Linked DNA regions of Homo sapiens. The protein of the gene in region 1 binds, or shares a complex with, the protein of each later gene. Each region holds a gene or a part of one and is shown in the gene's direction. Other genes may lie near its edges.

What was found.
Region 2: the proteins of ZDHHC9 (region 1) and GOLGA7 are in contact, whole or in part, in a cryo-EM structure (PDB 8HF3), measured with the Homo sapiens proteins. Residues at the interface, in NP_001008223.1 of Homo sapiens: Phe78, Ala81, Arg85, Ile94, Pro95, Leu98, Asp100, Glu101, Phe104, Ile105, Phe129, Gln130, Ile131, Asn132, Ile146, Pro149, Pro150, Arg182, Tyr183, Leu186, Tyr274, Lys281, Cys284, Glu285, Leu287, Cys288, Gly289, Pro290, Leu291, Pro292; in NP_001002296.1 of Homo sapiens: Lys11 (codon at 10,140), Phe13 (codon at 10,146), Gln15 (codon at 10,152), Tyr18 (codon at 10,161), Ser19 (codon at 10,164), Ser20 (codon at 10,167), Gly21 (codon at 10,170), Thr22 (codon at 10,173), Ala57, Glu58, Leu60, Ser64, Tyr65, Gly68, Cys72, Ala75, Tyr76, Thr77, Phe79, Leu80, Tyr86, Glu87, Leu90, Ile116, Arg118, Gly119, Arg121, Val122.

What each region holds. Positions count from the first base shown.
Region 1 is NC_000023.11:129,837,525-129,852,791, reverse strand, and holds the start of ZDHHC9 (palmitoyltransferase ZDHHC9), read left to right. Parts: upstream 1-8,905; 5' UTR 8,906-9,096; intron 9,097-9,192; exon of another isoform or gene 9,193-9,465; 5' UTR 9,466-9,533; intron 9,534-10,711; 5' UTR 10,712-10,846; coding exon 10,847-11,013; intron 11,014-15,267. UniProt on the Homo sapiens protein: Palmitoyltransferase that catalyzes the addition of palmitate onto various protein substrates, such as ADRB2, GSDMD, HRAS, NRAS and CGAS. The ZDHHC9-GOLGA7 complex is a palmitoyltransferase specific for HRAS and NRAS.
Region 2 is NC_000008.11:41,480,746-41,496,684, forward strand, and holds the start of GOLGA7 (golgin subfamily A member 7), read left to right. Parts: upstream 1-9,836; 5' UTR 9,837-10,109; coding exon 10,110-10,220; intron 10,221-15,939. UniProt on the Homo sapiens protein: May be involved in protein transport from Golgi to cell surface. The ZDHHC9-GOLGA7 complex is a palmitoyltransferase specific for HRAS and NRAS.

The sequences.
Region 1 (15,267 bases):
AAAACAAAATTCAGTTAACGCTTCTGTCAAGTGAAGAGACAGAACAGATTTTGTTATTATCCCACAGCATTTTAGTAGTTTCCTAAAGCTTACTCATTCTGACCAGTCTTAGTAAGCTACTATTGTCAAAGACTGTGCAATCAAACATAGGCTGACCATAAGCAAAGCCCCAATTTTCCTGAGCTTTGGCTGCCTCTGTGATCTGGAACACATCAGGCAGCATGGAAGTTATTATTACTTATTTGGGGGAATAGGAAAGACTGCGGATCAAAAACCACCTAACCATACAAATAAGTAACCAAAAGTGATCAAACTGACTAATTTAGCCGTTCAGAATCCCTTTTGCCAAAAAGTCATAACCTTGAGGTTGATGAAGTAAAACAGGATTCTGCTACTCAGATGCTTTGAGTTTAGGAAGTGCTGGTTTTGATGGTATTTCTAGTCAGTTTTTATTCTGATCTTTTCAGGCACTTCTGCCTGAGACTACTCTGCCCAGCATGAAAAAGCTTCACAGAAACATGTAGCACATCTCATCTCAAGTGGTACCTTCCAAGATGCCACAGTCTCCTGCCCTATTCAGTTGTCTACTTCTTCCTCTTCGTTCTGTTCTTCTTCCAGCCTTTCTTCATCTTCATCATTGTTCTCATCTCTGCTCTTGTCTTGCTCTTCCGAGTCTGTTTTTTTGTCTTTGTCCTTCTTCTTTTGCTCTGAGGCCCCCTTCTTGCCTTTCTGCTCCTGCCTATATGCATCCAGAGCTTCTTTTTTTTTTCTTTTTTTCTTTTATTTATTTATTTATTTATTTATTTATTTATTTATTTATTTTTATTGATCATTCTTGGGTGTTTCTCACAGAGGGGGATTTGGCAGGGTCATAGGACAATAGTGGAGGGAGGGTCAGCAGATAAACAAGTGAACAAAGGTCTCTGGTTTTCCTATGCAGAGGACCCTGCGGCCTTCCGCAGTGTTTGTGTCCCTGGGTACTTGAGATTAGGGAGTGGTGATGACTCTTAACGAGCATGCTGCCTTCAAGCATCTGTTTAACAAAGCACATCTTGCACCACCCTTAATCCATTTAACCCTGAGTGGACACAGCACATGTTTCAGAGAGCACAGGGTTGGGGGTAAGGTCACCGATCAACAGGATCACAAGGCAGAAGAATTTTTCTTAGTACAGAACAAAATGAAAAGTCTCCCGTGTCTACCTCTTTCTACACAGACATGGCAACCATCCGATTTCTCAATCCTTTCCCCGCCTTTACCTCCTTTCTATTCCACAAAACCGCCACTGTCATCATGGCCCGTTCTCAATGAGCTGTTGGGTACACCTCCCAGACGGGGTGGTGGCTGGGCAGAGGGGCTCCTCACTTCCCAGTAGGGGCGGCCGGGCAGAGGCGCCCCTCACCTCCCAGACCGGGCGGCTGGCCGGGTGGGGGGCTGACCCCCCCACCTCCCTCCCGGGCGGGGCGGCTGGCCGGGTGGGGGGCTGACCCCCCCCACCTCCCTCCCGGACGGGGCGGCTGGCCGGGCGGGGGGCTCACACCCCCACCTCCCTCCCGGAAGGGGCGGCTGGCCGGGCGGGGGGGCTGAACCCCCCACCTCCCTCCCGGACAGGGCGGCTGGCCGGGCGGGGGGCTGACCCCCCCACCTCCCTCCCGGACGGGGCGGCTGGCCGGGCGGGGGGGCTGAACCCCCCACCTCCCTCCCGGACGGGGCGGCTGGCCGGGCGGGGGGCTGACCCCCCCATCTCCCTCCTGGACGGGGCGGCTGGCCGGGCAGAGGGGCTGCTCACTTCCCAGTAGGGGCGGCTGGGCAGAGGCGCCCCTCACCTCCCGGACGGGGCGGCTGGCCGGGCAGGGGGCTGACTCCCCCACCTCCCTCCCGGACGGGGCTGCTGGCCGGGCGGGGGGCTCACACCCCCACCTCCCTCCCGGATGGGGCGGCTGGCCGGGCGGGGGGCTGACCCCCCCACCTCCTTCCCAGACGGGGCGGCTGGCCGGGCAGAGGGGCTCCTCACTTCCCAGTAGGGGCAGCCGGGCAGAGGCGCCCCTCACCTCCCGGATGGGGCGGCTGGCCGGGCGGGGGGCTGACCCTCCCCACCTCCCTCCCGGACGGGGCGGCTGGCCTGGCGGGGGCTGACCCCCACCTCCCTCCCGGATGGGGTGGCTGCCGGGCAGAGACGCTCCTCACTTCCCAGATGGGGTGGCTGCCGGGCGGAGGGGCTCCTCACTTCTCATATGGGGCCGTTGCCAGGCGGAGGGTCTCCTCACTTCTCAGACGGGGCGGCTGGGCAGAGACGCTCCTCACCTCCCAGACAGGGTTGCGGCTGGGTAGAGGCGCTCCTCACATCCCAGACGGGGCGGCGGGGCAGAGGCGCTCCCCACATCTCAGACGATGGGCAGCCAGGCAGAGACGCTCCTCACTTCCTAGATGGGATGGCGGCCGGGGAGAGGCGCTCCTCACTTCCTGGATGGGATGGCGGCCGGGCAGAGACGCTCCTCACTTTCCAGACTGGGTAGCCAGGCAGAGGGGCTCCTCACGTCCCAGACGATGGGCGTCCAGGCAGAGACGCTCCTCACTTCCCAGACGGGGTGGCGGCCGGGCAGAGGCTGCAATCTCGGCACTTTGGGAGGCCAAGGCAGGCGGCTGGGAGGTGGAGGTTGTAGCGAGCCGAGATCATGCCACTGCACTCCAGCCTGGGCACCATTGAGCACTGAGTGAACCAGACTCCGTCTGCAATCCCAGCACCTCGGGAGGCCGAGGCTGGCGGATCACTCGCGGTTAGGAGCTGGAGACCAGCCCGGCCAACACAGCGAAACCCCGTCTCCACCAAAAAAATACGAAAACCAGTCAGGCGTGGTGGCGCGCGCCTGCAATCGCAGGCACTCGGCAGGCTGAGGCAGGAGAATCAGGCAGGGAGGCTGCAGTGCGCCGAGATGGCAGCAGTACAGTCCAGCTTTGGCTCGGCATCAGTGGGAGACGGTGGAAAGAGAGGGAGAGGGAGACCGTGGGGAGAGGGAGAGGGAGAGGAGGGAGAGGGAGAGAGAGAGGGGGGAGAGGGAGAGGGAGAGGGGGGAGAGGGAGAGGGAGAGGGGGGAGAGGGAGAGGGAGAGGGAGAGCCAGAGCTGCTTTTTTAAAAATTTTTTTTTATTTTTTATTTTTTCTGAGACGGAGTCTCACTCTGTCACCAGGCTGGAGTGCAGTGGCGCAATCTCGGCTCACTGCAACCTCCGCCTCCTAGATTCAAGTGATTCCCCTGCCTCAGCCTCCCGAGTAGCTGGGACTACAGGTGCGCACCACCACACCTGGCTAATTTTTGTATTTTTAGTAGAGACGGGGTTTCACCATGTTGGCCAGGCTGGTCTCAAACTCCCGGCCCCAAGCAATCCACGCGCCTCGGCCTCCCAAAGTGCTGGGATTACAGGCGTGAGCTAGTGTGCCCGGCCTCAAGAAAATATTTTAATGTAAAATTTCCATTGAAATATTCCCACATATAGGAAGGCAGTGGTCTGCTCTTTTCTGTATGAATGTTATATACCATTATTTTTAATAGTTGCATAGTACTGTACTATGTAGATTTCCAATAGTTAATGGCCTTTTTTGTTTGCTAATTTTTGCAATTACACATACACAATTATGCACATTCACAAACAATTGCAATGTGTGTAGTGAACATCTTTGAACATATATCTTTGAACATTTGTGCGAGTATTTCTAGATAGAAGTAGGATTGTTGGGTCAGTGGTTGTGTAATGCAAAAATGTTAAAAGATACCGCCAAATAGCCCTGCTGAAAGATTTTTACCAGTTTACTCCTCTACCAATGGTATTCGAGAAGCTACAACCCTTTGAGGCAAGATCTCCTTAAGAAGTTGGAGACTCTGCTATGCATAGTTGAGAATTTGACTCTGCACTGTTTTGTATTTATCTTTAATGACTTCATAGGTGCTAGTCTTTTTGCCCCTAGAATATTTTAAGTTCCTTGGAGGCTGGGATCATGTCATATACTTCCTTGGTATTTCCCATATTGCCTAGTACAGGCTGAGCAAACTATGGCTGTTGCTTAATACATACTTCATGATTGATTGATAAACTGGTTCTATTTTTGGGCTGCACAGTGATTGAGGTGAGCTCTTGGAATGAGAGAGCTGGGCAGAGTCAGAGACTAGGGCTGTGCCGGGTCAGTATCAGATGCTGTCACTTGCACATCAAGTTTAGACCGTAATCTGAGAATCTAAATGTATAAAGCACCTACTACAATCCCTGGCTCAGAGGAGGTCCCCAATAAATGATTTCTATTGCTGTTATGATTCTCTTTTAATGAGAGGATTGTCTTAGGGCTACTGTTGAGGGTTCAAGCATAGGACCTAAAGCCATCCCAGGCAGAGTCAGAAATCCACAGTCCAGAGATGAAGTCAAATTGGGAACCAGTGGGAGCAGCCAGGCATCTGAGGCAGAAACAGAGACCTGCGTTTGGGCAGTTCACTTGCATTGTGATGAACACTTTCCTGGCCATCCCAGGCTGTTTTTTGGGGGGCTTTCTGCATGTTTGGCTTTCATGCAAAAGTATCTTTTTTGTTTGTTTTTGAGACGGAGTCTTGCTCTGTCGCCCAGGCTGGAGTGCAGTGGCGCAATCTCAGCCCACTGCAACCTTTGTCTCCCGGGTGGAAGCGATTGTTGTGCCTCAGCCTCCCAAGTAGCTGGGATTATAGGCACCTGCCACCAAGCCCAGCCAATTTTTGTGTTTTTATTAGAGTCGGGGTTTCGCCGTGTTGGTCAGGCTGGTCTTGAACTGCTGACCTCAGGTGATCCACCCGCCTCAGCCCCCCAAAGTTCTGGGATTACAAGCGTGAGCCACCGCGCCTGGCCATGCGAGGACATCTTTAAGGTGCTGCTTAGTTCCCAAGAGAAGCCAACAATCTCAGCACAGGGCTGTGAACATAGGAGGTGCTCAGTGAAAGCAATCCCATTTACCTTTTGCCTGTTGAAACAGATAATGTGGCAGGAATGTCAATGATTTACTTGAGAAGAGGAGGCTAAGGATCAGCCATTCTACTAGAACAAGATTACTATCCAGGCTTTCCCCAGTCCCAGGTGGGGTAGGGGGCTGGGAAACCCAGTCAGATAAGGATTCAATTCAGTGATGAATTTAGAGGTTATGAAAACGTGGTGGTACATGGATGACAAGGACTCTATACAGTGAAGAATGGGTCTCATTTTTTCTACCTCTCTACCCCAGTCAGCAGGATGGCTAAGGGAGGGAGATGGGAGGGGGCAGTAATGGAGATGTCATTATAACATACAGCATTGACTGTGTCTCTCTTCCATGCCAGACAGTTAGCACACAATTCCCTTTATAACTCCATGATATAGGTATTAGCTTTATTTTACAGATGAAGAAATAGTCTCAGAAAGGATAAATTACTTGCCACAGGTTATACAAGCTATTACGTAGCAGAGCCAGGATTTGAACCGAGGCCTGTCTGGCCATAAGGCTTATGTGCTTTCTGAGCTACCTACCATCCTGGATCTTCTATGTCAGTGATAGCAGCCCAGGCCTCAGAGAAACAGATGTTGCTTAAGAATACTAGCTCATCATGCGTGGGTAGGGCATTCCGTGGTTCATTCTTTTGTTCATCAATTCGTTCTACACACACATGCATTTATAGCCAGAAAGCAGAAAGAGATGTGCAAGTCAGAGAGGTGGGGTGGAAAGGGCTGTGTGTGTGGGGAGGAGGGCAAAGTGACATGACAAGTTTGAGGCTACAGAAAATAGAGAATAAAGGAGCTATCATGAGCTCAAAAGCAGGATGGGGGCTGATGCTTTATGTCTGCTCCTGGATGTAGTACTGAATGGGTCTCCGGGTGGTTACAGAAGAGTCTTTGAAGCAACACTAACAGGAAAGCTTCAACCCAGTGGTGGCACTCAGGATCAAACAGCACATTACACCTACACCTACACACGCCTACACACACACACACACACACACAAACACACACACATGAAGAATAAATGTGGAGACAGGTATTTTTAAACAAATACTCCAGAACATACATGATAACACAAGGAGCTGTCTTATAAACTGGAAGGCTATACCTTGATTTTTGTGGTGTTTCTAGTGCTCATCACATGACTATAACCCCTTTTCTTCTCTCTCTTTCTTTCTTTCTTTCTTTCTCTCCCTCTCTCTCTCTCTCTCTCTCTCTTAGATGGAATCTCGCTCTGTCGTCCAGGCTGGAGTGCAGTGGAGCGATCTGGGCTCATTGCAACCTCCGCCTCCCAGATTCAAGTGATTCTCATGCTCAGCCTCCTGAGTAGCTGGGATTACAGGCACCTGCCACCATGCCTGGCTAGAGATAGGGTTTCACCATGTTGGCCAGGCTGGTCTCAAACTCCTGTCCTCAAGTGATCTGCCTGCCTTGGCCTCCCATAGTGCTGGGATTACAGACGTGAGCCACTGTGCCCGGCCTATAACCTCTTTTCAAAAGAGCCAACACTGACTTGGATGTAAAAAGTGGGAAGTCTGTTGAAAAGAGAAGAGAAAAGAATAGGAAAAAACAGTCTCAGTTTATAGTCACAATTTAGTTGTGTGTGTGTATTAAGACTTTAAGGATTATATAAAATGATGTAACTACATAGGAGGAAGTACTATGGGATGTTTGTCCACATAAATTTTCCTTATTTTTCTTTGAGTGTTGAGAATAAATAATAACAGATTGTAATAAAACAAGCCTGACTCACATAGCCACTTAGTCCGAGAGGGAATGTGACCCAGAGCAGGGAGGGACAGAGCTCAGGAATGTGTCACCATGACACATCGATTCCAGGACTCCTCAGGCTTCACCTGCACCTGAGCTATGGACAAAATATGTTTGAGTGCTACAGAGGCTTATTTTTCACTGCTCCATAGTCAGAAGGATGGCAGCTGGGGTGACCATACTATTCCTAAGGGCATCTGATATACATAGGCTTGGAAATCCACAGGGCTGATGAGGTTTAGGGAAGTTCTTCTCCCTCCCATACCAAGTGTGTGCAATACCAGCACCCTCCAGAATTCAAAGCGGGAGAATTGGAGGCAATGATACTGATCGTACACTTCATGAGGAATAAACTGTTGATCATAATCAGCATGAGTGCTAAGGAACAATGGAAGCTTTATAAAGACAAACCTTCCTTTGCAAGTTAATTACAACACATCTCAGAATTACCTAGTGTTTTTTAAATCCTTTAAGAATTTTGAAGGGTGCCATGAAAGTGTCAAATGTAATTATTATGTAGCTTTTTGTTTCATATTGTGTGGGACACATATACTGTAAAGGAAAAATAGTTCTTGACCATGTATGTGGTCCTTCAACTAACATACAACTGCCTTAGGAAGAGCTTTGGCAGTCTCTTCTGTACTAATTCCAAATACCAAATCTCTAAAACTTTGAAATTTTTATCACGCTTAGGAAAACCTAGGCTGGTAATGTAGGCATTCTCCTCCAATCTTCAACCTTTTCTCTTATCTCCTCTTACACTTGGAAAGGAGATGCCACCTTCAACCTTTTCTCATATTTCCTCTTATATTTGGAAGGCAGGAGCCATACTGGTGAAAACAGACCTAGTGTCTTTTAAAGTCACCCTATAGTATAATACTGTGGTTCTCAATTGTTTCCCCCCTTCAATCTCAAACTTTTTTTTTTTTTTTTTTAAGACAGGGTCTCTCTCTGTCGCCCAGGCTGGAGTGCAGTGGCATGATCTTGGCTCACTGCAACCTTCACCTCCTGGGTTCAAGTGATCCTCCTGCCTCAGCCTCCCTGGTAGCTGGGACTACAGGCGAGTCCCACCGCTCCCCGCTAACTTTTGTCTTTCTAGTAGAGACGGGTTTTGCCATGTTGGCCAGGCTGGTCTTGAACTCCTGACCTCAGGTGATCCACCTGCCTCGGCCTCCCAAAGTGCTGGGATTACAGGCGTGAGCCACCGCGCCCAGCCCAATCTCAAACTTTTAATGCATGCAACTCACTCGGATCAGTAGCAGTGGCTCATGGTGGCAGTAATGCAGAGCTGGGTGGCAGAAGGAAAAAATCAATCTGGTTGGTGGGTGGGAATTCTGCCTTGGATTCTCCCCTTAATCATCATAAGCTTTCCAAACCGAATAAAAATTTACAACCTTTTTGGCAATCTTTACTTCATTACCTACCTGGAAGAATTTATGTCCTCAGTGGAGTTTCTTTAACTCCATTAATGTCAATTAGTTGTTTTAGGTGCTGCAAAATGATAATACGTTCTTGGGGACATTTATCCTTTACAACATGCTTTTTATGCTTGTTTGTGTGTTTTGATTTGAAAGACTTAGAGATGCAGGCTAGGGTGACTGGGACAGATATGGGGTCCCTGGCTACTGAATGAGACTTGGGAGGCAGATGACTTGTTTTTATGCCGATAAAGAGTAAAATCTCAAGTTGCGGTTGATTTTAAAATGCAAGCAGGGCTGGAGAGGCCCATGGCAGACCTAGTTTGGGGTGAGCACCCGGATCTGTGAGCTAGTGTTGCTTCAGCATCTCACTGTGTGTGTGTGTGCGCGCGCGTGTGTGTGTGTGCGCGCGCGCGCGCGTGTGTGTAGGCTGGTTCCACCCTTTGCTGTCCCATCGGCACTACCCTTAACCTCCGTCTCTGCGTAACTATATTAATAGAAGGCAACACTTCACATACTGGCGCTCAGACCCCAAAGAGAGGCTGGCAGTGGCTTGGCAGGTGGGCATGCAGCAGGGAGATGGGTGGAGGAGTGGGCGGAGGCATCGTCGAGTGGCGTTAGGCAAAACCAATGGCAGTTCGGGATAGGGGCGGCCGGGGCGGAGGCGCCGAGGCCGATCGGCCAATAGAGGGCGAGCAACTACTGGAGCGACCTGGTGACGTGAGGAGCGTTCCATTTGGCCAGTGGTGGGCGGTTGCCACAGCTGGTTTAGGGCCCCGACCACTGGGGCCCCTTGTCAGGAGGAGACAGCCTCCCGGCCCGGGGAGGACAAGTCGCTGCCACCTTTGGCTGCCGACGTGATTCCCTGGGACGGTCCGTTTCCTGCCGTCAGCTGCCGGCCGAGTTGGGTCTCCGTGGTTCAGGTAACGAGGGGTGGGGGCGGGGGTCTCCTGGGCTCGGCTGCAGGGTGGGCTGCCTCCCCTTCCGCGGCGCCTGGAGGCGGGGACGTCGGCACCGCCCTTCTCAACTCGGCAGCCGCCGAGCCCCTGGCCCGGGGTGACTACACGTGGCGGGGCGTGTGTGAGTGTGTACGAGCGTGTGGCTGCGTGTGCGTGTGGATGTGGCGCGCGTCCCAACCTGCCTGGGGCGGTGGTCCGCGGCGTGGCGGAGTCAGGGCGGGCCTCGAGAGGCCGCGCCCGCGGCTCGGCCCCGGACTCCGGCCTCCGGCCTCCGGCCCCCCGCTGGGGAGCCGGTCGCTGCTTCCCGACGGATTTTGATCTTTGTTCTTCCAGGCCGGCTCCCCCTTCCTGGTCTCCCTTCTCCCGCTGGGCCGGTTTATCGGGAGGAGATTGTCTTCCAGGTTAGTTTTACACAAAGGACGGGTTCTCTGCACCTCTGGGCCCCCCTCCCCTTCCCCGAACCTTCTACCTTCTCGTTTCCCTGCTCCGCTCCTAGGCTGTTTTTGGACCTTTGCCCTCTCCAGCCCGCGAGTTGGCTGTTTCTCCCTCCGTCCGTCGGGCTGCAGGCTTCCGCCTCAGTCCTGCCAGCGTGGGGCATGTGGTGTCGGTAAATAGAGGCCACAACACCACACCTGAGCGGAGGAGAAGGGTAGCAGAGGCTGAGAAACTCTGGGCCTGGGAATTCAGGATGCTGAGTAGAGATGGTACTTAGGACATGTCCCAGAAAGCGCCCTTGTGACTTTTCTTAGCTGCTGCCATTCCCCACCCCCCAACCAGCCATCAGCAGTCACCAACCATTCCAGAATCTCTCCTGCTTAAGTCAGCCTTTCACCTACAGGTCTCTGATGTGGTTTCATTAAGATTCTCACAAATGTTAGGCTAGACCAGCCAGATTGTTTCATTTCCCGGACTCAGGAAGTTGCAGAGGGTTTGATGAGGGGAAATCTGTTTTGTGTAAATACAATGCACGTATGTGCACAGAGCGTCCAGAACCTCCTGGCCCTGCCAGAGGGTGACTTGTTCCCTGCTGTGATTCATATTCGAGTGGCTAATTGAAGAAAGAAGGTGAAGTGGAGGAAGGGAGGGAGGTTTTATAAGGACAGAAACTCTACTATTATTTTTAGAGTCCTTTTAATGATGTTGAAAGAACACTGTGGCATAGTGGAACATGCCCTTGACTGGAAGTTAGCAGTATCAGCATTGCTGCTGTGTGGTCCTGGATAAGTTATTTCCTCTCTCTGGTCCTCAGTTTACTCATTTACAAAACAAAGTATTAATAATTGGCACGATCACCTATAAAATCCTCTCTAGTTCCAAGGTTCTGTGATGATCAGATCATCAGCATTAGATTGGAAGCATAGAGGCTTATTTAAGAAGAAATACTAGCCCCTTTCCTTTTTTGAGAACCTTTTATCATACCTTCTTTTAGAGAACAAACACGAATTGGAAATAAACTTTTCCCACTTCCCCGTCCCCACCCCTTCAGTCAGTTTTCAACTTTCTGTCTCTGGGAAAGGAGGGTTGAACTGTATTTTCTTATTATTGCCTCATTTTTTTTTCTTTTTCTGCTTTTTCTTAGGGCTAGCAATTGGACTTTTGATGATGTTTGACCCAGCGGCAGGAATAGCAGGCAACGTGATTTCAAAGCTGGGCTCAGCCTCTGTTTCTTCTCTCGTGTAATCGCAAAACCCATTTTGGAGCAGGAATTCCAATCATGTCTGTGATGGTGGTGAGAAAGAAGGTGACACGGAAATGGGAGAAACTCCCAGGCAGGAACACCTTTTGCTGTGATGGCCGCGTCATGATGGCCCGGCAAAAGGGCATTTTCTACCTGACCCTTTTCCTCATCCTGGGGACATGTACACTCTTCTTCGCCTTTGAGTGAGTTTCGGTTGAGTAGAGTTACCTGATTATGGTTACTTTGGGTCCAGGGGAAGAACCTGCTTTCTGGGGAGTTTGGGGCTGGTCCTTGGATGACTTTAACGTCCTCTTGAGCGATGTCTGTAGAGATGCCAGCTGAATTCATTGCTTCGTGGTCATCACAGAGTATGTACTTCCTAAAAAGACCAATACCTTTGATACCAATTTTGTAGTACTGATTTGGGGCTGTCCTTGATAGACTTGGGAAATAAGAAAGTTTGTCTTAATTACTCACCTCTCCCTTTTAGTGGTCTCCTTAGAAGCTAAATGACAGATGGCCTCCCCTGCACACAAACCTGAGGGCACCCCTCATTGTTACATTACTCAGCAATCCTCACCTATTTTGTTATTCTGGGTCCTGTTTCCTTAAGGCTCAGCTCTCAGCTAGCTGGTACAGTGAAAAGCCAACTGAGTTGGGAACCTACAGATTAGTTCCAGCCTCAGCTGGACCACATACTAGTTGTGTGCGTGGCACATACGTGCTTATTAGAAGTGAGTTGCTCTTTCCCTCAAAATCACTCAACGTAAACAGCTCTATATTCTGTGTATGTCTGGTACCAGCCTTGGAGTGATTTTTTTTCTGTGGTGTAATACCTCGTACTCGAGCCACTGTTTGAAGTCTGTGTAGGTCTCGTCTCTAGGGGAGGTGGCCGGCTGGATTCTAGGGCACTGTGGCGTGTCTCCTGGGTGTGCTGAGAATGCTCTACACTCTAGGGATGGGAGCATTGCTAATTGTTTTGGGATTACTGTGAGGAGGCCTTTGAGAGCCAAGAGGTGTGTGTGTGGACTGTAAGCCACACCTGAGGTGAGCGTGCTATGGTGTATGTACATGGGTGACCTGGAAATGGAGGGCTTATGCTGGGGTGTGTCCATGGGAGGTAGGAGGGGGCACCTTGGCCAGCCTAGTGGGGAAGTAAAATGAGCTCTGGTCCCTTGGGGCTCATTTTTGTCCTTCTGTGAGGGCTTCAGGCTTTCCCAGTGCACCCAGAGTGATTTTTGGGCTGCTTTGCCAGACTTTTGGGTGGTTGCAGCTGGCTTGAGTAACAGCAGGGGGAGGGAGATCCAGTTTATAACGGGGCTGGGAAAGTAAGGTCAGAGGAACTCTTTGTTAAAGGTCCTTTTGCTGCTGCCGCCGCTACTGCTGACTTTGTGAAGTGTTTAGTGAAGTCAGGCAGGTTGCTGAAGGCTTCTTATTTGCTTTCCAGTTTGAGTTTCCTGAATGAGTGTGTGTGTGTGCATATGTGCACGCACGTGCTTGTGTGTGGTACCAGTGAGCATGTGTAGTCAGGCAGGCATAAGCCCCTAGCATTAAAAATTGTTTTTCCTTCTCCTCACCCTTCTCTCCAAGTATTCCTTGCCTCATTCCTGTCCTGCTTCTTCTTGGAAGTGCAAAGCTGACATCTGTTCTTTATCATTCTTCCTCTCTTTTTCTCTTTTTGTCCCCACCCCCACCTCCAGGTTAAATTTTTATTACAACTATTCCAAACAGAGATGAGCCTTGTTCCCAGGCTTTGAGTTAGTTGGTAGTTCTGGGCCCAGGAAACCTCTGGTTTGACTGGCCAGGGGTACTTGAAATTTGGAGGTATTGCCATTTGTCCCCTTTTGTATCTGGGAGCCAGCAGAAGAATCTGACTGGAATCTGTTCCACTGAGGCCCCTGCAGGCCTCTGAAGAAAACCGCTGGTGGGATGAAGCTTCTAATTAGCCAAGTTACCATTTGACAGAGGCAGGTTGAGTTTTCTACCATGATGACTTCCCCCCGCCCCAGGTTATTTCTTGCATTTTGAAGGGTGAGGTTATTTGTAAAACTTACTTGAGTACCAGCTGTCTGTGTGAAAGACTAAATATTTTTGAAGATAGGGCTGGAGGAGGGAGTAGTGGGAAGAAGAGGGGAGAAGGAAGTAAATGTGTTAGCAGAGGAGTGGAGGGGGGAGGTGGAAATGTGACCACAGAGGAGAGGACCCTGGTGATGAATACTTTGTACATGTGTGGATGTGCGTGCTTGTGTATGTGTGTGTGTGTCTGTCATATACAGACACATAGACACTTTAGGTGGTGGCTGCCTTGTGCCTAGCCAGTGACAGGTTGTACAAGGTACACCAGCATGCCTCTGAGGAATGAAATCTCCTTCTGGTCGGCCTTTTTCTTTGGCATCTATAATTTCCTGTCCACCACATAGTGGGGGCAGGGTTTGGGGAGCAGAATGTGGGCTGCTTTGTTAGTATTAGGACTTAGCGCAGTGGCTCATGCCTGTAATCCCAGCACTTGGGGAGGCCGAGGCAGGCAGATCACTTGAGGTCAGGAGTTCGAGACCAGCCTGGCCAACATGGTAAAACCCCCGTCTCTACTAAAAATACAAAAATTAGCCCCGTGTGGCTGTTGTGCGCCTGTAGTCCCAGCTACTCGGAAGGCTGAGGCAGGAGAATCCCTTGCACCTGGGAGGCGGAGGTTGCAGTGAGCTGAGATCTTAGCCTGGATGACAGAGTGAGACTCTGTCTTAAAAAAAAAAAAAAAAAAGAACTTAGTGAGGCCTCAGGAAATCAGTTGATCTAGCCCCCTGCCTTCAGGCAGGTGAGGGTGTCTGAATAGACAAATGGTGATCTATTTTCATTCTTACATTGTCTAGGAGTAGAGACTCCACATCCTCTGGCTGCTGTATTTTTACCTTGTGGGAAGATAGTCCAAATCTTGAGGCACATCTGGAGCTGCATTTTAGTAGCAGGGTCCTGCTTGCAGCAGGTGCTTAGGAACAAGTGTGAGTTGATTTATAGCTGCCTGCAGCACAGCTCTGGGCCAGCCAGATGGCTTGAGAAGTCTGGTCAGGCATGTGGGTGCCCCTTAATGAAAAACGCATAATGTTAGCAGTGCTGGCAGATGTCCTTTTATTTTTGGATTATGCCTTTACATATCTTCTAGAAGACTTTTCAAATGAGTGACCTGTAATTTTCAGTGGACACATAGTAGATTGAATACATAAAACAAAAAAAGTTGTCCATCCTGGGGCCAGTTAGCTCTGTATTGTTAGAGTGTTTCTTTTTTTTTTTAATTATTTTTTATTTTTTATTTATTTTTTGAGACAGGGCCTTGCCCCATCACCCAGGCTGGAGTGCAGTGGCATGATCTCTGCTTTTGCAACCTCTGCCTCCCGGGTTCAAGCACTTCTCCTGCCTCAGCCTCCCGAGTAGCTGGGATTACAGACACCTGCCAAATACAAATAATTTTTGTATTTTCAGTAGAGACAGGGTTTCACCATGTTGGCCAGGCTTGTCTCGAACTCCTGACCTCAAGTTATCCACCTGCCTCAGCCTCCCCAAGTGCTGGGATTACAGGCATGAGCCACTGCGCCCGGCCTGTTAGAGGTGTTTCTGAAGAAGCCGGGGGGTCTCTCTCGGGCCGCTGTCACCGAGTAGAAATTTGGCCAAATATTCACTAAGCCTCTTGCAACTCCAAGAACCTGAAATTCTGTATAACTCTGTGTCTGTCTGGAAGACTCAAATACACACAAAAGGAGATTATAGATTACCAGTAGGTTGCTATATTTAAATATAATTGTATTCATGGTAAACGTATTTAAGTTTAAAAGCAGAGTGAAAAATGGTATAATGCTTAAAGAAAAAGGATTTTCTAATTAATTCTTAGGGTGAGGTATTTAAGAAATGTGAGTGTGTATTGCTAGTTTCAGCTTTGAGCACATGAACAATTTTCAGTTCTTTCTGCTTAAGCTCTATCCAGCTTGTGCGATGAACACATAGCTACCAGCTTGGCCTGAAGTGTTAGGACACTGTAGCAGAATGCCACTGACAACCTAGGAGACATCCAGCTACTGAAAGGCTATCGTGGTATTCAGTCAAATTCAACTTCCTGATAAAGTGTGATCCTGGAGAAAGGAACAAGTGCACTGTCTCCTGGAATTGGCTTCCAGCTTTCTCTTTTAGCTTTCTGACCTGGCCACTAGTGGGATCAAGGTCCTCAGACTTCTCTTGTGGCAAGAATGACTATGAGACTCTTGACCCCTGAAGCAGAAGCAGTTTGCTGCTATAATCAGTGCTTATGGTCTCACTGTGTCCTCTGTATATGAAGGAAATCTTATCAAGGCACTGTCAGACCAGGTTCTGTCAGGTTGGTCCCCATTAGAGCTTTTGATGTATATATTGGCAGAAGAGTCATTGAATTGGATGAACTGAAAACAGCTTTGTAACACTGCTTAGTAATCAAT
Region 2 (15,939 bases), on another chromosome or scaffold:
CACAACAAAAAAAGAGAATTTTAGACCAATATCCCTGATGAACATCGATGCAAAAATCCTTAATAAAATACTGGCAAACCAAATCCAGCAGCACATCAAAAAGCTTATCCACCACGATCAAGTTGGCTTCAGCCCTGGGATGCAAGGCTGGTTCAACATACGCAAATCAATAAACGTAATCCAGCATACAAACAGAACCAAAGACAAAAACCACATGATTATCTCAACAGATGCAGAAAAGGCCTTCAACAAAATTCAACAGCCCTTCATGCTAAAAACTCTCAATAAACTAGGTACTGATGGGACGTATCTCAAAATACTAAGAGCTATTTATGACAAGCCCACAGCCAATATCATACTGAATGGGCAAAAACTGGAAGCATTCCCTTTGAAAACTGGCACAAGACAGGGATGCGCTCTCTCACCACTCCTATTCAACGTAGTGTTGGAAGTTCTGACCAGGGAAATCAGGCAGGAGAAAGAAATAAAGGATATTCAATTAGGAAAAGAGGAAGTCAAATTGTCCCTGTTTGCAGATGACATGATTGTATATCTAGAAAACCCCATTGTCTCAGCCCAAAATCTCCTTAAGCTGATAAGCAACTTCAGCAAAGTCTCAGGATACAAAATCAATGTGCAAAAATCACAAGCATTCCTATACACCAATAACAGACAAACAGAGAGCCAAATCATGAGTGAACTCCCATTCACAATTGCTTCAAAGAGAATTAAGTACCTAGGAATCCAACTTACAAGAGATGTGAAGGACCTCTTCAAGGAGAACTACAAACCACTGCTCAACAAAATAAAAGAGGACACAAATGGAAGAACAGGCCATGCTCATGGATAGGAAGAATCAATATTGTGAAAATGACCATACTGCTGAAGGTAATTTATGGATTCAATGCCATCCCCATCAAGCTACCAATGACTTTCTTCACAGAATTGGAAAAAACTACTTTAAAGTTCATATGGAATCAAAAAAAAGAGCCCACATTGCCAAGACAATCCTAAGCAAAAATAACAAAGCTGGAGGCATCACACTACCTGACTTCAAACTATACTACAAGGCTACAAAACAGCCTTGTAGTATAGTTTGGTTACAAGGTAACCAAAACAGCATGGTACTGGTACCAAAACAGAGATATAGACCAATGGAACAGAACAGAGCCCTCAGAAATAATACCACACATCTACAACCATCTGATCTTTGACAAAACTGACAAAAACAAGAAATGGGGAAAGGATTCCCTATTTAATAAATGGTGCTGGGAAAATTGGCTAGCAATATGTAGAAAGCTGAAACTGGATCCCTTCCTTACACCTTATACAAAAATTAATTCAAGATGGATTAAAGACTTAAATGTTAGACCTAAAACCATAAAAACCCTAGAAGAAAACCTAGACAATACCATTCGGGACATAGGCATGGGCAAGGACTTCATGACTAACACACCAAAAGCAATGGCAACAAAAGCCAAAATCGACAAATGGTATCTAAGTAAACTAAAGAGCTTCTGCACAGCAAAAGAAACTACCATCAGAGTGAACAGGCAACCTACAGAATGGGAGAAAATTTTTGCAATCTACCCATCTGACAAAGGGCTAATATCCAGAATCTACAAAGAACTTAAACAAATTTACAAGAAAAAATCAAACAGCCCCATCCAAAAGTGGGCAAAGGATACGAACAGACACTTCTCAAAAGAAGACATTTATGCAGCCAACAGACACATGAAAAAATGCTCATCATCACTGGCCATCAGAGAAATGCAAATCAAAACCACAATGAGATACCATCTCACATCATTTAGAATGGCAATCATTAAAAAGTCAGGAAACAACAGGTGCTGGAAAGGATGTGGAGAAACAGGAACACTTTTACACTGTTGGTGGGACTGTAAACTAGTTCAATCATCGTGGAAGACATTGTGGCGATTCCTCAAGGATCTAGAACTAGAAATACCATTTGACCCAGCCATCCCATTACTGGGTATATACCCAAAGGATTATAAATCATGCTGCTATAAAGACACATGCATACGTATGTTTATTGTGGCACTATTCACAATAGCAAAGACTTGGAACCAACCCAAATGTCCAGCAATGATAGATTGGATTAAGCAAATGTGGCATATATACACCATGGAATACTATGCAGCCCTAAAAAAGAATGAGTTCAGGTCCTTTGTAGGGACATAGATGAAGCTGGAAACCATCATTCTCAGCAAACTATCACAAGGACATAAAACCAAACACCGCATGTTCTCACTCATAGGTGGGAATTGTACAATGAGAACACTTAGACACAGGGTGGGGAACATCACACACTGGGGCCTGTTATGGAGTGGGGGGAGTGGGGAGGGATAGCATTAGGAGATATACCTAATGTAAACGACGAGTTAATGGGTGCAGCACACCAACATGGCACATGTATACATATGTAACAAACCTGCACATTGTGCACATGTACCCTAGAACTTAAAGTATAATAATAAAAAAGTCAAAAAATAAGTAAATAAATAAATTACCTCTTACCTCTCTCACACAAAGACTTTATCATATTGTCTTAAGATGGAATGTTAAATATATTCTTTTAAACTGGAGAGGAAATGAAAACAAGCCATATAGAAAACAAACTAATCAAATTGTTATAATTTGATTATAAACCAGCCTTGTATAGAAAATGTTATGATCCTCCCAAATTTATTTGTTTTCTGTCGGTATAAGCAAGACCTTAACTTTTAACTTCAGAGCACTCGCTCCATTTCTCTGGAGTCTGGTTTTCCCGGATGGCTATTCCCAACTTTTCACTTGAATACGCTCTTTAAAACTGGATTCTGATCCTTTCCATTATTTCAGGTTGACATATCAAAGAATGAAAAACATATTACAAACGATATGGATACCACTTGGTTCAGCACCACTCAGCCATAAAAGGTGTGATGGGTACAGAGGTTGAGTTGAACACGGAGTGCTTTCTGCAAAGCAGGATTCAATAACATTTGTGAATGGATAGTGTGGAAAGCAGAGAGGCTTCTAAAACATACTAAGCAGGGTTCTGAGTCTCCAGCCACAAATGTGCCTTTCTCAAAACAACATCCTCTACACTCCCATCTTCTCTTTTGTCTTTTTTGGGATCCTTTACTCCAGTCATTCCTCATCTTGATTCTTTTCTAGCCTCAAGTTGTCCAACTCATTCCCTCTATAAATGTATCTCCAGTAACAAATGTCAAAAGGACAGGAATTTTGCTCTCTCAAAAGGAAAGATTAAAGTATGCATCCCTTTTTCAACAATGCTATCCCACAGTGGGTGGAGGGGATTTTACAGACAGCCTCATTTCCCATTTTTCCAATGCCCTAGAATGCATATTACTATAAAGCAACCGTAGAAATTAATCCTTTGTGTTAGTGAGTATTTGTCCTTTATGGGAAAATTAGACATAACATGCAGTGCACATGGAAGAGCCCACAGGGGGAATTGTGAAGTTTTCATCCCTAGAGGTCATAAAGATAGTTGAAATAGTGCCAGATTCTAAGAAGGACACCTGGGCCAGATGTTTACCAGGCCCCTCCAACTCAAGGGAGGTACAATTCTAAGGAGGGAGGTCTTTTTTTTCTTTTCTTTTCTTTTTTTTTTTTTTTTTTTTTTGAGACCGAGTTCCACTCTTGTTGCCCAGGCTGGAGTGTAGTGGCGCGATCTCAGCTCACTGCAACTTCCACCTTCTGGTTTCAAGTGATTCTCCTGCCTCAGCCTCCCGAGTAGCTGGGATTACAGGGGCATGCCACTACCTCGGGCTAATTTTTGTATTTTTAGTAGAGACGAGGTTTCACCATGTTGGCCAGGCTGGTCTCCGACTCCTGACTTCGTGATCTGCTTGCCTCGGCCCCCCAAAGTGCTGGGATTACAGGCGTGAGCCACCGCACCCAGCCTGTTTTTCTTTTTACTTTTGTCAAAACTGCCGTCAAATCAGGTTCCACAGAAGATATGGACAGTTAATCATCTATCCCAGATAATGATGGTGTGTTCCCACTAGATGCCCTCATATTTCTTCCATCCACAACTAGCTATATGATTTTTGAGGCCCAGTGCAAAATTAAAGTGCAGACTCCCATGTTCAGAAAGTATTACGAATTTCAAGATGATGACAGCAGGACATTAAGCCAAGAAGAGAGCTCTTCTCAGTGCAGATCCCTATGCAACTATACAAGTCACACACCCGTGACACCACCCTTGCTTCCAGCTCTGCAATTCTACACTGTGCTGGTGAAAAGAGTCTGAAATCTCCAAACCCTCTTATCCACCAGCCACTTCAGATATGAGAGGTCTTCAATAGGATCCTAAACAATAAAGGCAAAGGACCCTTATTAATGACATCATTCAATCTGCTCTTCTCCCTCACAATGAAATAAACAAAAATGTAAGCAAGAGCAGCTCTTTCATGGAGAGAGCATTCAGTACAACTGTCTGGCATCTGTTCAGCCTGTTTCCTGAAACTGGGACACACGTTGTTTTAGATGGTGAAATTTAAATGGAAGGAACAGATGCTGTCAATTCAGGTATGCCAATAATGTTCTCTCAAAATGCAATAAAGACATACAAGCTTATAAAACGGAAGCTGACTTGAAATTACCAGCAAATGCATGAAAACAAAGAGACAATGATCCTTGGAGTTCTGCCCATTGTACCAGTGCATGGTAGACACTAGAACTGAAAACGAGGAAAATGGATTTGATCTGCCCCCACCCCAGTCATGCCTCAAAGCTTTAGAAGAAAACAACTACTACAAAAAAAACGATGTTAGACGAAACGGGGATGGCTTCGGTGAGCAACGTGAGCATGGCCAAGGAGGACAGTTTAAAATTTCTTTAGTATAAGGACGTCTTTCAATCCAATTGAGATCTTTATGAAGGACCTGGGAGGAAGTGGTTGGACACAAATAGAACAAAGCCCAGGAGAGATCGTAGCTGAAGAGAAGACGCCATCTGCAGCGTGGGAAGCTGTTTGTAAGCAGGGCCGAAAATGATCCAGGATGGGTCAAAAGTTGAACATGAGTTGGTGATACAGAATGGGACCCCGCATTGAAAAGCTAGCTTTGTTCCAATAGAGAAAAAAAAACAGAGTTGAAAATGGAGGGACAAAAGGATTTCACTGATAATATTCAGCACAGGTTAACGCTCTTATCAGAGTATCTAGTTTGAAACACCAGAAGGTTCTGAGAGTCATACAAAAAGACAGAAACTTTGGAATAGAGATCCTACCATCGAAGATAAAGGAAGCTGGTTCATTCACCTTGGAGAAGAAACGATAGAGGGGTGTGTAAAAGGATATAAGATTTTTATCACCATCTCTCTTCTCTATTAAAGATCTCTCATCCCTACTCCCACCTGACCCTCACCCAAGCAGACTTCAGATCCTACTTATTTCAGGTATGAATACTTATCATTCCCTGGACAGAGAGGCTGGAATGCCCAATTATCTCTCCTTCTGTTAAAACCCCTCCCCTTCCCCAAAGTTTTTTAACCTGTTATAATCTCCCTCCTCCCACCCTCCTGGCCACCCATAAGAATGTGAATTTCCACAGGACATAAATAATCCACACTTTTTTTATCCTTTCATCACCAGCCCTTATGAGTGTCGACAAATATTTGTTGAATGAATTCATTTTCAAAGCATTTCATGAGAATCTATTATGGACAGAGGAATAAAATAGATAATATGTAGGCTTCAAAGAAGCTAAACATAGACAAGGGACTCAAAATTCAAAAAGGAAGAATGAATTGTCAATACTGTAGACTAATAGCTTGACTTCAGCTCCTTAAAATATCAGAGGATTGTTGAAAACATAGAAAGGAATAAAATAATAGTGTAGGGCTAGTGAGCTCATAGATTATAGATCATATCTGTATTATATAGTATTATCATTGTTTGGCCAGGGTTACTAGATTAATAGATATAGTAGAGATTATATGAGGTAATGCATATAAACCGCTCAACCTAGTTCCTTAACACTAATAGCCCAATGAATAGTAGCTGCTGCTATCATGATGTTAATGTTAGCAAATCATTTGACTATGTCACTAATGATGTAATAATTTAAAAAAAAAACAGAGTACCATACAGTATTTGTTATGTGCCAAACACATTCTAAGTGTTTTACATACAATATCACATTGACACCCTCTACAAGGTAGATGTACTAGATTTAATAGTGTCCCCCAAAATCCATGTCAGTCGGGAACCCCAGATCCTTATTTGCAAATAGGGTCTTTACAGATGTAATCAGGTTAAGATGGTCAGACAGGATTAGGTGGGCCCTAAAGCCAATGAATAGTGCTCTTTATAAGGAGAGAAATATTTCAAGACACAGAGAAGATACAGGGAAGAAGGCCATGGGAAGATGGAGGCAGAAATTGCAGTTATGCTGTCATAAGCCAAGGAATTCCAAGGATTGCTGGTAACTGCCAGAAGCTATTTGGTTGGTACAAAAGTAATTGCTGTTTTACTTTTAATGGCAAAACTAGAATCTAGACACATGAGTGTGTTTAGGGATGAGGGAAGACGATAACAATACAGCTCATCGTCCTTTGATTCCTCTTTCACCTGGGATCGATCCTCTTCCCAAACATGAAGAGGGTTTTCCTTGGGTTATATTTGCCCTCAAATTTCCTCATTCAAAAATAATCTGTTTGCTGGGTGCAGTGGCTCACGCCTGTAATCCCAGCACTTTGGGAGGCCGAGGCGGGTGGATCACGAGGTCAGGAGTTCAAGACCAGCCTAGACAACACGGTGAAACCCCGTCTCTACGCAAAAAAATACAAAAATTAGCTGGGTGTGGTGGCACGCACCTGTAATTCCAGCTACTCGGGAGGCTGAGGCAGGAGAATGGCTTGAACCCAGGAGGCGGAGGTTGTGGTGAGCCGAGATCGTGCCACTGAACTCCAGCCTGGGCGACAGAGTGAGATCCATCTCAAAAAATAATAATAATAGTCTGTTTTACCACCTAGTCTCAGTGGCCAAGGGCTGCAGGAAAATACTCCAAATATACAATGTATGAAAATTGTTTTCTTCGTTCACTCCATTAGACTGAAATTTTGAGGGTAGAGACTGTTTTACCTGTTTAAGGGTGTTCTCAACCCCTAGTAACAAATATGTAGAAAACCAGCTCCTAGGAGATCTTACTGAGTTAGTAAGGAAGCATCAACTTCGGAGACAAACACTAGTAGACATTTAATTCAAAACAGGATCAGATCATGAAACGGAATAGAAAGTCCAAAACAGGCAGACAGAGGGACAGACAGACAGACACACACACACACACACACACCACTGATTTTCTTTTTCTTTTTTTTTTTTTTTTTTTTTTTGAGACAGAGTCTCGCTCTTTAGCCCAGGCCGGAGTGCAGTGGCACTATCTCCGCTCACTGCAAGCTCCGCCTCCCGAGTTCACCCCATTCTCCTGCCTCAGCCTCTCGAGTAGCTGGGACTTATAGGCGCCCGCCACGGCGCCCGGCTCATTTTTTGTATTTTTAGTAGACACGGGGTTTCACCGTGTTAGCCAGAATGATCTCGATCTCCTGACCTCGTGATCCGCCCGCCTCGGCCTCTCAAAGTGCTGGGATTACAGGCGTGAGCCACCGCGCCCGGCCCCCACTGATTTTCAACAGAGATACAAAGGCAATTCAGTGAAGAAATGAGAGTCTTTTCAACAAATGGTACGTAAACAACTGAATAACAACTGCATAATCATACGGGGGGAGGGAAGAGTTTCACTCTATACCTATGGGAGGCAGAAATGCCCTCCCCAAGAGGTCCACACCCTAATCCCCTCAAACCCCTAACGTGTTAAGAGAGTAAAAAGACAAATCACAGACTGTGAAAAATGCATGCAAATCACATATCTGATAAAGGATTTTTCTCCAGAATGTATAAAGAACTCAAAACTCAAAAACAGCCCGGCCAAGTTCTCACGCAAGTATAAAGGCCTCAGGAAAACATCTTTAAACATACAAAAATCCAAGAATTAAAGTGCCTTAAAAATTTAAAACTGACCTTAAGCCCAGCCAATAAAGATGTAAATCAAAACAAAATAAAACAAAAAACCCCTCAACAACAGGAAAATAAAATACAAACAAAAAAATGGGCAAAAGTTTTAAATAGACACTTCACCAGAGAAGATACATGGATGGCAAATAAGTACAGGAAAATATGTTCAAAATAATTAGTCATGGAAAAATGAAAATTATAGCTGCAGAAGATATTACTACCCAAGTCTTGGCAAAGATGTGGAGCAACTGGAACTCTGGTGGGAATGCAAAATGGTGTCACCACTTTGGAAAACAGTTTGTCAGTCTGCCAAAAAGTTAAACGTGTTTTTACCGTACAATCTAGCCATTCTACTCCTAGGTATGTACCCAAGAGAAATGAAAGCATTAAGGTCTACACACCTATGCAAAGACTTGCAAATGAATGTCCATAGCAGCTTTATTTGTAACATCCCAAAACTGGAAGCAATCCAAATGTCCATCAACAGATGAATGGATAAACAAACTGTGGGATGGCCATACAATGGAATAGCTATCCAGCATCAAAAATAAATGAATTATTGATAACACAACAACAGATGGACTTCAAAATAGTCTATGTGAAAGAAGCCAGGCAAAAAAAGGGGGTACACACTATATGATTCAATTTATATAAAATTCAAGGAAATGAAACTAATGTTGAGTGACAGAAGGTGGATCAGTGCCTGGGAAATGGGGTCTGGGAGAGGCAGGAGGGAGAGATTACACAGGAGCTGGAGGAACCTTTTCAGGGCAATGGAGCTTTACTATCTTGATTGTGACAGTGGTTTATGGGTGTATTCATATGTCCAAAGTTATCAAATCCACTGCTTTAAATGTGTGGTTTATTGTATGCCATTTATATCTCGAAAAAGCTGTTTTTAAAATACAGTAAGAGAATTTTTCATATTTAAAAGGCAGGATATTTAAACTATATTAAATATATAAAAGACAGTGGTACTAACAGGTTGTATTAGCAGGAGACAAGGGTAAGGTGGGGTTTCTTTGGCTGCCTTGCAAAGAAATGCTGAGTCAAGTAAGGGCCAGTGGGCAACGAGGGCGGAACCACTTGTCCCCTTGGTCACCTGAGGGATGTGGATGGGAGCTGGGTGGAAATGGGGGGTGAGAGGAACGCCGCCCCCAAAGAAGAGTCGGGGCAGGGGCGCCCAACGCTGGGGCCCAGGCAGGTTCTTCGTCCTCACTTCCTGACCCTTTCTCAAGAGTCTAGGGACCAAATGGATCCATCCTTGGAGCCTGCTTTCTACTTCTGAACACAATGAGCAGTTTGTGTTTGAGGGTTTGGGGAGGGGGTGTTGTTTTTTCTTTATGTTTTGTTTTTTGTTTTGTGTATGAGTTGGGTGGCATAACCCACACGTAAGCTGCGACGTCCAATCAAGAACGAAAATGACCCCTCACAATCAGTGATCGGGAACCACCTGCCACAATCACTAGGGAAGTGACACAGCCGGGAAACTCCGCCCCTCACACCCCCGCGCGCTCGCGCCGGCCGCAGCCCCACAGCTCGCCCCGGCCGCAGCCCCACAGCTCGCCCCGCCTCTCTCCTTCCGGAAACAATCCCCGCGCGGGCGGAAGGCGGGGTCGGCCCTGGCCCCGCCCACATCATTTCCCTTCCTCGGCCCAGCCCCACAGCGCGCAGCTTCGGCAGGGTGGCTTTACGGCCGGAGGAGAGGGTGGGTCCCAGACCTGAGGTAGGAGGCCGAGCTGAGGGGCGGGGAAGAGGCTTTTTGCGGCAGGACGTAAGTGACGGCGAAGGCGGTGCGACAGCAGCTGGAGGGCAGAGGAGGCGGGTTTGTGTTTCCCGGGCCGAACCGGGTTGTGGGGGGCGCGGGGCCTGGGCCAGGCGGCAGCTAAGGCCCGCGGTGACAGCATGGGTGAAGGGGAGCGGGGCAGAGGAGGCCTTGGGCTGTTTTCGGCGGCGGGTGGGGGCGAGGGGCTGGCGGGTCAGAGTCCCGGGTCCAGGCCGGGGCTCTGACTCGCGGTTGGTGTTCCCCCGACCCCGCAGCGCGGGGTGTCCTGTCCTCGCCATGAGGCCGCAGCAGGCGCCGGTGTCCGGAAAGGTGTTCATTCAGCGAGACTACAGCAGTGGCACACGCTGCCAGTTCCAGACCAAGTTCCCTGCGGAGCTGGAGAACCGGGTACGCAACCTGGCTCCCCACGCCTGCTCTGGCGAGGGAGAGAGACTCACCGGGGACGGGAAGGGTGTGGGCGACAACCGGGCCTTTGAGGGTCCCGCAGTTCTGGGGAGGTCCAGGCACAGAAGGGGCCTTGGCCAAACGTGTAAGAAGAGAGCCACTAAGCAAGACAGGTGTTTGGAGCAGGAAGAATAATATAGGCCGATCGCCGGGGTTGACGACCTTATGGAACTTTGTTGCCCGGTGCCGGGAATCTGGATCCAGCAGTGTTCCCCTGCTGCACTCCCCCAAATCCCCACCCCGGGTTATTGTCGGCAGCGATGAGGAGCCAATTCCTGAGGCTCCAGGTCGTCTCAGTCACCAGGTTGTAAACTATATCCTCCTACCTCTCCGCGCAAGATAAATCATCATCATTCTCGTGACTGGTGTTTGCTGCCTCTGTGCTGGCCGCACTGTTTGGCTGAAAGGGTTTATTAGGTGCATGGCCAGGCGGTGCGTTCAGGCTTTCTTGGAACCTTAAAGACGTCGGGCGTTAGATAGGCCTGGACAGGAAAATGTCTCAGAACAAGGCCTTAAACTTGTCACATTCACTGGGAGCCACCTGTTTTGTCTTGCATATCAAAATGGTCATCAGGATATAGGTCCTTTGGGCAACATTGCAGGCAAAAATGGAAGAATGGGATTTGCTTCCCCTTCAGACCTAGCAAAACTTTAAAAAAAAAAAAAAAATCATTGTATCTTGTTGTAGAGGTAATGGAGTGTGTGCGTGCCTGCCTGTGTTTTTGTGTGCCCACATATGTACATTCAACCAAAGATTCTTTTGGTCTTGACCCATGTTATGTAGATTGTGTTTCCCGTTCAGGGATCAATTTCTGGTTAGCTGGAAGCAGGTTTTGTGGCTCTCTCCTCTGTGACAGGGAGGACGAGGGCCTGAGAGGTGATTAGGCATTCCTTGGGTGTGGGACTGAGAGATGCTGGTCATGGGATAAGTGGGTGTGGATGAGTCTGTGTAGAGAAATGTGTAGCAGTTATTTACAGTCAGTTTGCAGTGAGGTGGGTTGCACTGCCCGATTTCCATGGTTGGGAAATCAACAATGATCCATTATAGTTTCCTTCAGTTTGACATAACCATGGGCAGCTTCATGGCCCAAATATGTTTCTTGAATTGCAAATGGATCAAATATGCCTTTAAAAGATGGTGAGGTGACTTGTTTCTGAAATGCCATTTAAATGCTGCAGTATGTTGTCAACTATGTTATGAGTTAACTGAGCGTGACAATAGGTGGAACTATCTACAGTGGTTTGAAGAGGTAGAAATTCAGCAAGTGGCCAGTTGGGTAGAGCTACTGAATGTTGTTTTAAAATAATTTAACATCACAATTGATGTGTTTTACATGTTAAGATTGACATGGAATCTGGCTGGGCCCGGTGGCTCACGCCTGTAATCCCAGCACTCTGGGAGGCCGTGGCGGGTGCATCACTTGAGGTCGGGAATTCAAGACCAGCTTGGCCAACATGGTGAAACCCCATCTCTACTAAAAATACAAAAATTAGTCAGGCATGGTGGCGGGCACCTGTAATCCCCGCTACTCAGGAGGCTGAAGTAGAAGAATTTCTTGAACCTGGGAGGCGGAGGTTGCAGTGAGCCGAGATCATGCCATTGTACTCCAGCCTGGGCGACAGAGCAAGACTCTTGTCTCAAAAAATAAATCAAATAAAAAGATATACATGGAATCAATCAAATGTTTTATTTTTAAGCCTCTTACGGAAACTATGACATACAATTTATGTACTTCAAAATCAGAATATAAAGTATTCTTTTTTTACCACAATTATTTGGACATTAAAGATTCCTTTGCTTTAAGGTTTTAAAGCAACACTTACACCTCATATATTTGAGCTAAATGTGTATACACAGAATCAGACATTAGCCTTCCACTCTGTGTGTGGCAGAGCCTTTATTTTGTAATCTAAGTGCAAAAGCACAATGTAGTTACTGTGCTCCACTGATTCTTGTCAGGAAATTGATGTTTCTAAATTCTGGAGTCCTTTTACCTCTTTGACTCTGTATAGCCCAGAACTGCTTGTGGTACTGAGTACTATATGGAATGTTACATGGCACTCTTCAATTGTGCCTTTGAATTTCTTTTTTCTTTTTAAATGTTTGGGTTAAAACACTAGCTTATGCTTTAAACCACTAGAAAAGCTTTGATTGTCTGTGTATGTGTGTTGAGATTAAATTTAAATTACAGGTTTAAACTTTCCTTGCTTTGATGAAAAATTGAAAGGTTTCTGTTTCTCTACTACTTACCCTAGAAATTTTACTGATTGCTCTGCTATTGGAGCTGATTTTCCTTTTGTGAGAACATCACACTTGGCAACATAATAGAGAAAGTGACTAATATGCAAGTGTTTTGTATTATTTTAAAGCATTTTTTAAAAATACACACACATTTGTGCCCTTTAATTTGGGAGTAGGATAGGTTCTGTCTGTTAACAAGTTCATTTTCTCTGCTGCCTTTTAGAATGTAATACTTTGATGCTTAAGCGATTTGTTGCCAGAACAATTCCTTAAAGGAAACTTTATTCTCATTAGCCTTAAAATACAGATATCTTAGTTACCCTTGGTCTGGGTAGAAGAATGAGTGAACTGTAATTGAGGCATTTTTTCCCTTTAAAAATATGTCTCCCCATCTGGTTAGTAATTACCTTTGACCTGCCACCCTTGATACGTGATCACTGCATGCTTCACCATGCTTTCTACTGTGTAGTTCACAGTAATTCTGGGAAAATAAGCCTGATTTCTCTTTCCATTCTGATTTTTGATGTTTGTGGGTCCAAATTTTATTTGGCTGTGACTTCTCATATATCTAAATTTTGATAGAGCTCCTGTATCAGTGTCCAGGAACCTAAGGGAGAACACTGGCCACTGTTATTCATAGCCTAAAGGTAGTAAGATACAAATGCCAACATTTGTTCTCTTGAGCCCTTTCTTGTGAAGTTTGTCGTTTGCCTTTATTGATGCCTTCTGTGATTTTTACCCTTTATTTCCCTTTTTTAAAATAACCTTTCAAAAACTTGTTGGCATTTACTTTTCTTTAACCATTTATCCTTTCTTTTTCTTTTTTTATTAACCTTTTTTTGTTTGTTTGTTTAACTGACGTATGATTTACCTCTAACCTATAGGGCATTGTAATCTCGGAATAACGCATAAGAATTAAGTGTTTCTGGCTGGGCATGGTGGTTTGCACCCAAGTAATCCCAGCTGCTCTGGGGGTTGAGGTAGGAGTATCCCTTGGGGCCAGGAGTTCAAGACCAGTCTGGGCAACATAGCGATACTCTGTCACTAAACTTAAAAAATAATAATAATTAGGGTTTCCGGGATAAACAGTAATTCTGATATGAAAGAAATAAGATGTTTCTGGGTTGAATCCCATGGTTTTGAATTGTATTGTAAAGAAATATAAATAATTCAATGACTTATAACATAGGCACATCAAATGTGATTGGAATTATTTAGACTTTTGTAGACTTATCGGTGGACAAACTGAAGGCATTAACGTAGGCATAATTAGGTGAACGTAACAGCTTACCATTTTTGTTTGCTGAGCTCTCCTCAGTCTGTTTTCGTGAATGAGAACTCACAGTTTCCCAGATGACCAGCCTTGACACCACATCTACAAGGGGTAGCTCAGTGAAGAAACACTGCCCCTGCGTTTAAAGGCCGTCTTGACCCACCTAGCCTTTGTCCAAATCTCTAATATTCCTGGAAATTTAAAGTAACTCCTTTTGAAAAATGGGTAGAGCCAACACCACTTTAAAGTTTGCATTAAATTCATGCATGCCACTAGCCCATTGACTCCTCACATTTTCCACACAACGGACAAAACAATGACTACAACTGCTTCTAACTTAAAGAGTTGTCATAGCTTAAGGATGGTCATGAATTGTTTTACACTTTAAAAGATTATGTTCTTGAGGCCAGGTGCAGGTGGCTCTTTGGGAGGCCAGGGGGGTGGATCACATGAGGCTAGGAGCCTGAGACCAGCCTGGCAACATGGCAAAACCTCGTCTCTACTAAAAATACAAAAATTAGTAGGGAATGGTGGTGCACGCCTGTAATCCCAGCTACTCGGGAGGCTGAGACACGAGAATCACTTGATCCTGGGACCAGAGGTTACAGTGAGCCAAGATTGCGCCACTGCACTCCAGCCAGGGTGACAGAGTGAGACTCTGTCTCAAAAAAAAAAAAAAAAAAAAAAAAGATTACATTCTTGGGAATAGTGAATAGTAGGGCTCATACTGTATGTTGAGGGTTTTTTTTCTTTCTTTCTTTTTTTGAGACAGGGTCTCACTCTGTCACCCAGACTGGAGTGCAGTGGTGAGATCTCAGTTCACTGCAACCTCCACTTCCCAGGCTCCAGCAATCCTCCCACCTCAGCCTCCTGAGTAGCTAGGACTATAGGCATGCACCACCACGCCTGGCTAATTTTTGCATTTTTAGTAGAGACAGAGTTTCACCATGTTGCCCAGGCTGGTCTCAAACTCCTGAGCTCAAGTGATCCACCCAGCTCAACTTCCCAAGTGCTGGGATTACAGGAATGAGCCACCACGCCAGCCTGATTTTTTTTTTTCTGAGTCGGTTTCTATTATAAAGAAAGATTTAATAGGTTCACAGAGACAGGAAAGGAGAAAAAAAAAAAGCCAAACAAAAAAGTCTTTTAAATAAGGACTTCATAAAAGAGAGAATTCATACGTAAGTAGTTATTAATTTTAGAAATAAGGGAATCCTTATGCGAGAGAAGGCCTAGAGTGCAGACAGATAAGAATGGCAGTATTGGATGATTGCTCTCCTAATGGGCCTTGAAAGTCCTGGGATGAAGTAGCAAAATTTGAAATCTGTTATACAAAGTACTATTAGAAGACAGTAAAGTAATATTGGAAGAATAAAGTAAAAGCAGATGATTGAGTGAAACAATGGATGACAGTACAGGTTCTTTCTTATGTGAAATATGTGGAACCAGAAGTATTTCAGTTTTTGGGGTTTTTTTAGATTTTGAAATATTTGTTTATACTAATGAGATATCTTGGGAATGGGATCCAAGTCTAAACACGAAATTCATTATGTTTTATATCCACCTTATACATATAACCTGAAGGTAATTTTATACAATATTTTAAATGACTTTATGAGACAAAGTGTGTGTACACTGAACCATCTTATCACCCTTTGTGAGCACGCTTGCATGGGAGAATCTGGCTGTGCATGGAAAAGATACATGGCAGCTGATGGGGGCTGGAAGGGTCTTTTTCTCTTGGGGACACTGAATAAACTATGTGTTGTGCGCCTGCATTTTGACTGTGACCCCTCACATGAGGTCGGGTTTGGAATTTCCCACTTGTGGTATCATGTCAGTGCTCAAAAGTTTCAGATTTTGGAGCCTTTCTGACTTCAGAATTTAAGATCAGGGATGCTCAACCTGTGGTAGTATTAGTGTAAATTTAAGATAATGGTGTCACCAAATAGAAAGAGGTAATAAGAATGACTTAATGTGAAAAATTGTTTATTAGCTTGAGATTTTACCTTAACAAATTTTACCTTATTTAGTAACAAGATAATTGCTTCAAAAGAGATAGGCTGAGTAAACAGAATATAGAACCTACGCCTTTTGATCCTTCTGCTAAAATGCCATTTTTTTTTTTTTTGCCTAGTAAATTCCAG